Homo sapiens: one gene and its partner. The protein of the gene in region 2 purifies or fractionates together with the protein of the main gene of each other region. This does not show direct contact. Each region holds a gene or a part of one and is shown on either strand. Other genes may lie near its edges.

Region 1 (3,358 bases), on a different chromosome or scaffold from region 2:
TGTTGGCTGACAATTAGGTGGATCAAGGTGACTTAACAAGGTGAATTAACTCATTAATACAACAATAGTTGAAGACAACTATTTTCAAGTGTAGGAAGACTACTGATTCTTCCAGTGCTTACATTTACTAATACATAATATAATATGTGCCAGGCATTATGGAAAGTGGTTTACATGCATTAACTTATTTATCTCCATAATCACTCTATGAAGATGACGCTAGCATCATTCTCATTTTATAGTTAGAGAACAGGCTAAGAGTGGAAAGGTAAAGAGTGAAAGGTCACATAGGTGGTAAGCGGCAGAACTGGGAGACAAGCAAGCCCATGTGTGTCTAAGTCCCAAACCTATGCACTTAATCACTATATTATGCTATGAAAGGTTTCAACTTTACTAAATGAATAAAGATGGAAAAAAACACACAGAGTTACTAGGAGTAGAATTGAGAAAAATGCAATTAACACAACTTAAGAATTTTTAAAGGATCAGGGTGTGAGGAGGACTAAGTAATTGGGTATACATAATTAAAAGAAAGACCCAAACCTATTCTGAGTCCTAACACACAATGAAAATATACGTGACTTGGTGTGACATAGAAACACAGGCTAATGCTGGCAGAAAGTCAGTATTCCACAAGACCAACCACAGATAAAGATACAGCCATCTGTTAAGAGGGCGTCCTGAAACTGTAGAGGGACTTCTAAGGCTTTTAATCAGTTTTCTTGGACACATTCTACCAGTCTTTCAAGGCCCACCCTTTCTGATTCATCCAAGCTATATACTAAGTTCTGCCTTGTCTAAACCTGACTCACTTGGCAGGCAATAAACGTGACTTTTTGTTGGTATTTCCTAGGACGGCGGTCCCCAAACTTTTTGGCACCAGGGACTAGTTTTGAGGAAGACAATTTTTTCATGGATGGGGGTCGGGGGGTGGGGATGGTTGTAGGATGAAACTGCTCTACCTCAGATCATCAGACATTAGATTCTCTTAAGGAGGGCACTACCTAGATCCCTCGCATGCGGGGTTCACAACGGGGTTCGCACTCCTATGAGAATCTAATGTTGTGGCTCATCTGACAGGAGGCAGAGCTCAGGCAGGAATGCTCGCTTACCTCCTGCTGTATGGCCTGGTTCCTCACAGACCAGGGACCAGGACCAGTCTGTGGCCCAGGTGGTTCCTCACAGACCAGGGACCAGTACCGGTCTGTGGCCCAGGGGTTGGGGACCCTTTTCTATAGGATCAAGTCATCAACTCTATGGTGTTTTACGAGAGAATATACTGTACCTCAGTTGTCTTAGTTGGCATTATTTGGTAGCAAGTAACAGCCTTCTGACTTAAGAAAAAACTAAGTTGGGGAGTCTCTCTGTAAGGTTTTAAGGCTATCTTGTGGAACCCCAGGAGGATGAAATGCAGATAGTGAAATGCAAGACACTGGAACAAACACTGCCAAGTTATCAGGAATCAAGAAAGCCATTTTCTTTTTCTTCTGGGGTTGAATGTCATCTTTGCTTTCTCTGCCTCCCATGTATGTTCCAGATGTGACCTCCCAAGACATCAGTTTTCCAATTCCAAATTCTCAGGAGAAATCATCTAATTGGCTCAACTTTGACCAGATGTCCACTCCTTGTCTGATTTCTGAACAGCTCCTCACGGAAGGTGGCAGAAAGTAATGCTCAGAGAAGGGATGTAAGTCGGACAGATATCCTAAAAGGTCACTAAGCCAATACTTCCTGTATTTCGTTGTTGTCGATTAATCGGAGGCTTAGACTTTTTTTTGTGGGGGAAGGATGGAGGGGAGAAATAACTGCATTTCTCTGATGGCCTTTCCTAATCTTAAAAACCACTTCAGTGCTAGACTTTATCTTTCAGTCGCAATGAACCTGAAGATTCTTCGGCTGGTTTTTAGAAATGTTCAAATAGGATAGACTCTTACACAGGGGTGTAATTTCCTCAAGAAAATACACATTTAGGTGCTTCAGTCTTTTCTTCTTATTCCATCCTTTTCTGATAGGGCAGTCACTTCAGACACTTCATCCACTATCACTTTAGGTTCCAACTGTTCTTTTCACATTTTTGCATTAGAAATAAGACTTCTTCTCATTTTGGAAAAATCAATGTATGAACCATAGTCAAACAATGAAAATTCTAAAACACTTCACTACAGAAAAATGGAATCTCCAGAGTTAAGGGGGGAGGAAGGCATTGGAAGGAGGTTACCATTTGAATCTCTACCGTTAAGTCAGGCACTATGCTGAATGCTTATATTTTAATACAACAATCCTATCAACAGGGAGTACTATTGTTAGCCTCTTCATGGATGATGAAAATGAGGTTTTAAGGTAAGAAAACTACCAATATCACACATCTAGTAAGTAGCTTAGCATAGATTCAGAAGCAAGAGTTAAAAGGTGAAAAATGGGGAAAAGGACTGAAGGAGATAGGCCTTCTCAGGATATCATTCTTAACATCAAAAACTGTATCTTAAACGTATTTAATACAATGAAGTGGCATGAATCATGTTACATGACAATATACATGACACCTTTTTAAAAAATATATTCATATCATGAAGACTTTATAACATCAAATAAAAGCCAACATGGGAAAAAAAAAAACCTTGTATACCCTTTAGACTCCAGATTTGGCCAAGCGTGGTGGCTCACGCCTATAATCCCAACACTTTGGGAGGCAGAGGTGGAAGGATCACTTGAGCCCAGGAATTCAAGACCAGCCTAGGCAATATAGTGAGACCCCATCTCTACAAAACAAATTAAAATTAACTGAGCATGGTGGTGTGCACCTGTGGTCCAAGCTACTTAAGAGGCCGAAGTGGGGAGGATTGCTTGAGACCAGTAAGTGGAGTCTGCAGTAAGCCATGATTGCACCACTGCACTGTGTGACAGAGACAGACCCTGTCAAATATAGGGAAAAAACAAACAATAAACCCTGGACTAGAATGAATTTTTCTGGGGAGAAGGTGTAGGATTCCAAAAAGACTAGGAATCACTGACAAAAAAAATTCTTCTCTTTTGCAATTTGGCAGCCCCTCTTAAAAATTTTTCCACTCTGTCCCTCACAAAGTCCCCCATCACCCAACATACCACACTGTACCTTTGCAAACGCCATTTCTGCTGAGTTTCCCAGACTTCATGCAGAATTCTCCCTCTTCTAGGTTTCTACAGTACTTTGTTTCTGCCACTAATATATATATTTACATTATACGCAAATCTGTCTGAACAAGGCAAGGGGCCAATGTTGTTTCTTCAACACTAAATAAAATTATGAGGTGATTTCACAAAAATATCAAATTTGTACCAAAGATATCAATTAATTTGTTTTGTGCTTATTGTCAGACAA
Region 2 (4,366 bases):
AGCTCCCAGACTGCAGGCAGGTCAGAGGTCCCCCAGAATCACCCTGCAGGAGAAAGAGGAGCCTAAGTCCCAGCCCTCCCAGGACTTCAGTTCTCAGGGTTCCAGACCCCTGGCGTGGTGCCTCTAGGTTGGAGGCCAGGATCCTGAGCCTGAGTTGGGATGTCCTGGGTCCTGGAGTTCAGGGAGGGAGGGTGCTGGGCACAGGGAGGGGACTCCGGAGGCTGGGGAGGCTGGGTGCACACCTGGCAGGCGTCCTTGTGGCCCTGGGGGTAGCCGGCACACAGACTCCCAGGCAGCACAATGCGCTCAGCCTGGGGCACGTCCGCGCCCACGTGGTAGAGGCCGTCGCAGGTGCGCGAGTCCAGCAGCGGCACCCTTACTCCTTGTAGCGGTCGCCACTCTGGGAGGGGCACTGGGGGAAGAGGAGGGACCTCTGAGAGGAAGGCGTGGAGCGGGGGCCAGTGGGAGAAGCTGAGCTCTGAGTGAGAGGAGGTTTTGTTCCCTAGAAGCCGCGCTGGGTCCTGGATTGGGGCAGTGAGGGGCTGGGATTTCCAGTCAGATGGAGGAGGACGTGGGGGCTCCCGGATGCCTCGGAGCCCCGCCCTCCTGCCTTACCTCCTGGGCGGAGGCTGCCCCAGCCGGTGACCCGGCATGGTGTGCCGGGCGGCGGGCGGGCGCCGGGCACGGGCAGGCAGACGGGTTGGACGCGAGCGCTCAGGGGCACCGGGCGACGCAGCTGCAGCAGTGCCAGGTCGCCGCGGGCCCCGTCCTCGGAGTAGTCCGGGGGCAGCAGCACCCGTCGCACGGGCACCGAGAGCGTGCGGGGCGAGGTGGAGCCCAGACGCAGCGCCCCCAGGCGCACGCGGTACTCAGCTGGCAGTGCCCTCCTGCAGGACAGGAGCGGGGGACTACTTCCAGCACCGGGTCCTCGACCCCCTCCAGCCCGCCTCGACCCCAACGCCTCTGCCAGGCCACGCCCGGTCCTCTGCGGGCCTTGCCTTCCTTGCACACCCCGCCTGGGCCCTCGGTGAGCGCTGACCTGGGGAAGCAGTGCGCCGCTGTCAGCACCCACTGGGGGGCGATGAGCGACCCCCCGCACACGTGTGCCCCACGATGCTGGATGCTCGCCTGCCACGGCCACTCTCCGTCCCGGCCATCCCGGCCCCCAACGATCCGACTGGACATGCGGGGCTGCCCGCAGGCTAGAAAAGGACCAGGGGCGGTGAGGGTTGGCTGAGGACCTGGGGCCTGGGAGGCAGGTGTTGGTGGGGAGACACGGGGCCGAGGTCCAGGAGGGGCTGACTCGGGTGGACTCCGAGGCTTCCTCACCTGCAGACTTCCTTCCCTGAGTCCCAGCAGCTCCTGGAGGAGGAAGCAGGGAAGGGACCAGATTATAGATTTGGTGTCAAATAACGGAGTTGGAGGGGAGGCCAGAGATGAGGAAGGAGGGTGAAACAATGTTGCCCTGACATTGCGCCAGGCTTTCGTGCCGTCTGTTATCTTATTTAACCCTCCCCAGAGCACTGTGAAGGTGCAGGGGGCAAGGGCGTATGAGCATGACACCGACAAGCACATCGAGGTGTGGTGAGGTCAAGGTCAGTGGCAGAGAGGATTGAGCCCTTGGAATCAAGATTAGAAAGCCCAAGAGTGCTCCAGGGAGCCCGGCCCAGGGAGCAGTGAGATGGGAGAACTGGGAGCCAAGGTGTCTGCGGCCCTCACCCCCAGTCCCTGTCCCCACTCACCCAGCACCAGAAGGAGCAGGACCTGGAGACAGGAAACCCCTCTCATTCTGTCTTCAAGGCTGGGCTGGGTAAGGGTGGCACTGCCTAGGGCTTGGACTCTGGTCTGGAGCCAGCAGGGAGAAGAGAGGAGAGTCCTGGCCCAGGGGCACCAATCCTCACACCAGCCCGTCACCCCCTCCGTGGTCCTTCTGTCTGTCCTCAGCTCCTGGTGGGTTCTGGACTTATCCTGGTGGCCCAGGCTGTATACCCTTCGTTCTGCCCAGGGCCCAGGTATGCAGCACCCACCACCCAGATATTTGGGCATCCTTGGTCTCGACAGAAGCCCTGGAGCCTAACCCCCCTCGGTCATCCTCACTCCCTCCCTCATCCCCCTCCCCCATCCTCACCCCCTCCCTCATCCTCACCCCCTCCCTCATCCTCACTCCCTCCTCCATCCTCACCCCCCTCCTCCTCACTCCCCTCCCTTATCCTCACCCCTTCCCTCATCCTCATCCCTCTCTCATCCTCACCCCCTCCCTCATCCTCACCTCCTCCTCTATCCTCACCCCGTCCTCCATCGTCACCCCTGCTCCTCCTCACTCCCCTCCCTCATCCTCACCCCCTCCCTCATCCTCACCTCTCATCCTCACCCCTCTCTCATCCTCACCCCTCCCTCATCCTCACCCCTCCTCTATCCTCACCCCCTCCTCCATCCTCAGCCCCCTCCTCCTCACTCCCCTCCCTCATCCTCACCCCCTCCCTCATCCTCACCCCTGTCTCATCCTCACCCCCTCCCTCATCCTTCACCCCCTCCCTCATCCTCACTCCTCTCTCATCACCCCTCCTCCATCCTTCACCCCCCCATCGTCACCCCCTCCCTCATCCTCACCCCCTCCTCTATCCTCACCCCCTTCCTCCTCACTCCCCTCCCTCATCTTCACCACTTCCCTCATCCTCACCCCCTCCCCCATCCTTCACCCCTCCTCGTCCTCACCCTCATCCTCACCCACTGGCTGCCCCTGCAGCCCCCACAGCCCCTGGCTTGCTCTCACCCTCACAGCCTGGCGCCTTCTGCTGACTGGGGTTGAGGGAGGGCCTGGGGGCTTAAAGTGCCAGGAGAGCGCGAGGCTCAGCCAAGGAGTAATGAACAGGGCCGGGGCGGGGCTGTGGCTTTACCGGACCAGCCTCAAACAAAGATGCTTTGAGCAGAGCTTCAGAGGTGGCAGGAAAGGGTCAATGGGTTTCTCAAAGGAAGCCTGCCTTGCGCCAAGGTACTAGAAGTGGGGGCTGGCGGAGAGCAGTGGTGCGGGTAGGTGCTGGGAGGGGTGGCAGTCAGGTGGGGAAGCTCTGCAGGATCCGGGGCAACTCCTCTCCAAACCTGACCTGGGCTCCCTGCAGAGCACACGTTGCTGGAGCTTCTGCGCTCCATTGTTCTGTCCAGAAATCCCATCTCAGACGGAAGTCCTGGCCAGACAGCTCCACCCAGAGACCCCAGCATGGCCAGCCCCCTTCCAGATCCGGGGTCTGGAGCAGCTGGAGGTGGAAAGGGACTGGTTCAAAGTTGGTGGCACTCCTTACTTGACCAGAGGCAGGGGGAGACTTGACCTTGGGGACCAGTGCAGTCTTTGGTTTGGGGTGGCCGAGACAGAGCAAGATGCTGGGGTCAGGGGACAGGAACTCCCCTTCTCTCGAGGCCCGTGGAGGACCGGGGCCCGGATGGTCCAGGGCCCTGTAGTTCCCTCTTGGGCTCATACACAGTGTTCGCTGCCTAGAAGTCTCTCAAGTCCCTCTCTGCATAGTGAACTCCTCTTATCCCTCAGCCTTCTGCTCTGCCACCTCCTCCTGCCTCCTTTGCAGCCCTGCCATAGTTGTACTTTTTTCCTTTTTTTTTTTTTTGTTTTTCTTTCTTTTTTTTTTTAAAGAGACAGGGTCTTGGCCAAGCATGGTGGCTCATGCCTGTAATCCCTGCATTTTGGGAAGCCGAGATGGGTGGCTCATTTGAGGTCAGGGGTTTGAGACGAGCCTGGCCAACATGGTGAAACCTCGTCTCTACTAAAAATACAAAAATTAGCCAGGCCTGATGGTGGGCGCCTGCAATCTCAGCTACTCGGGAGGCTGAGGCACAGGAATTGCTTGAACCCGGGAGGTGGAAGTTGCAGTGAGCCGAGATTATGCCACTGCACTCCAGCCTGGGCGACGCAGTGAGATTCTGTCTCAAAAAAAAATAAAAAGGGAGAGAGAGACAGGGTCTTGCTCTGTCACCCAGGCTGGAGTGCAGTGGTACAATCACAACTCCCTGCGTCCTTGACCTCTGGGCTCAAGTGATCCTGCCACCTCAGCTTCCCAAGTAGTTGGGACCACAGGTGCATGCCACAGCACCTAGCAATTTTTTTTTCCAGAGATGGGGTCTTGCAATGATGCCCAACTTGTTCTCGAACTCCTGGGCTCAAGAGATCCTCTTGCTGTAGTCTCCCAAAGTGCTGGGGTTATAGGCATGTGCCACCGAGGCCAGCCCATAGTTGTCCTTTGACAGGGACTTGAGGAGGTTTGATTTACATCCTCTTGTCTCCCCTCCAGCATCAGGGTCTGGGTCTGTGTCCCTGTAGGAGTCCGCTTGGGCTGCCATAAACAAAAACCACAGCCGA

The links.
Region 1: the proteins of PRSS33 (region 2) and SP3 purify together in Homo sapiens (affinity purification with mass spectrometry; one large-scale study listed by BioGRID and IntAct). This does not show direct contact.

What each region holds. Positions count from the first base shown.
Region 1 is NC_000002.12:173,903,073-173,906,430, forward strand, and holds part of SP3 (transcription factor Sp3), read right to left. Parts: 3' UTR 1-3,358. UniProt on the Homo sapiens protein: Transcriptional factor that can act as an activator or repressor depending on isoform and/or post-translational modifications. Binds to GT and GC boxes promoter elements. Competes with SP1 for the GC-box promoters.
Region 2 is NC_000016.10:2,784,760-2,789,125, forward strand, and holds the start of PRSS33 (serine protease 33 precursor), read right to left. Parts: upstream 2,802-4,366; 5' UTR 2,774-2,801; exon of another isoform or gene 2,716-2,773; intron 1,846-2,715; 5' UTR 1,789-1,845; coding exon 1,743-1,788; intron 1,363-1,742; coding exon 1,330-1,362; intron 1,203-1,329; coding exon 1,040-1,202; intron 888-1,039; coding exon 616-887; intron 413-615; coding exon 243-412; intron 44-242; coding exon 1-43. UniProt on the Homo sapiens protein: Serine protease that has amidolytic activity, cleaving its substrates before Arg residues.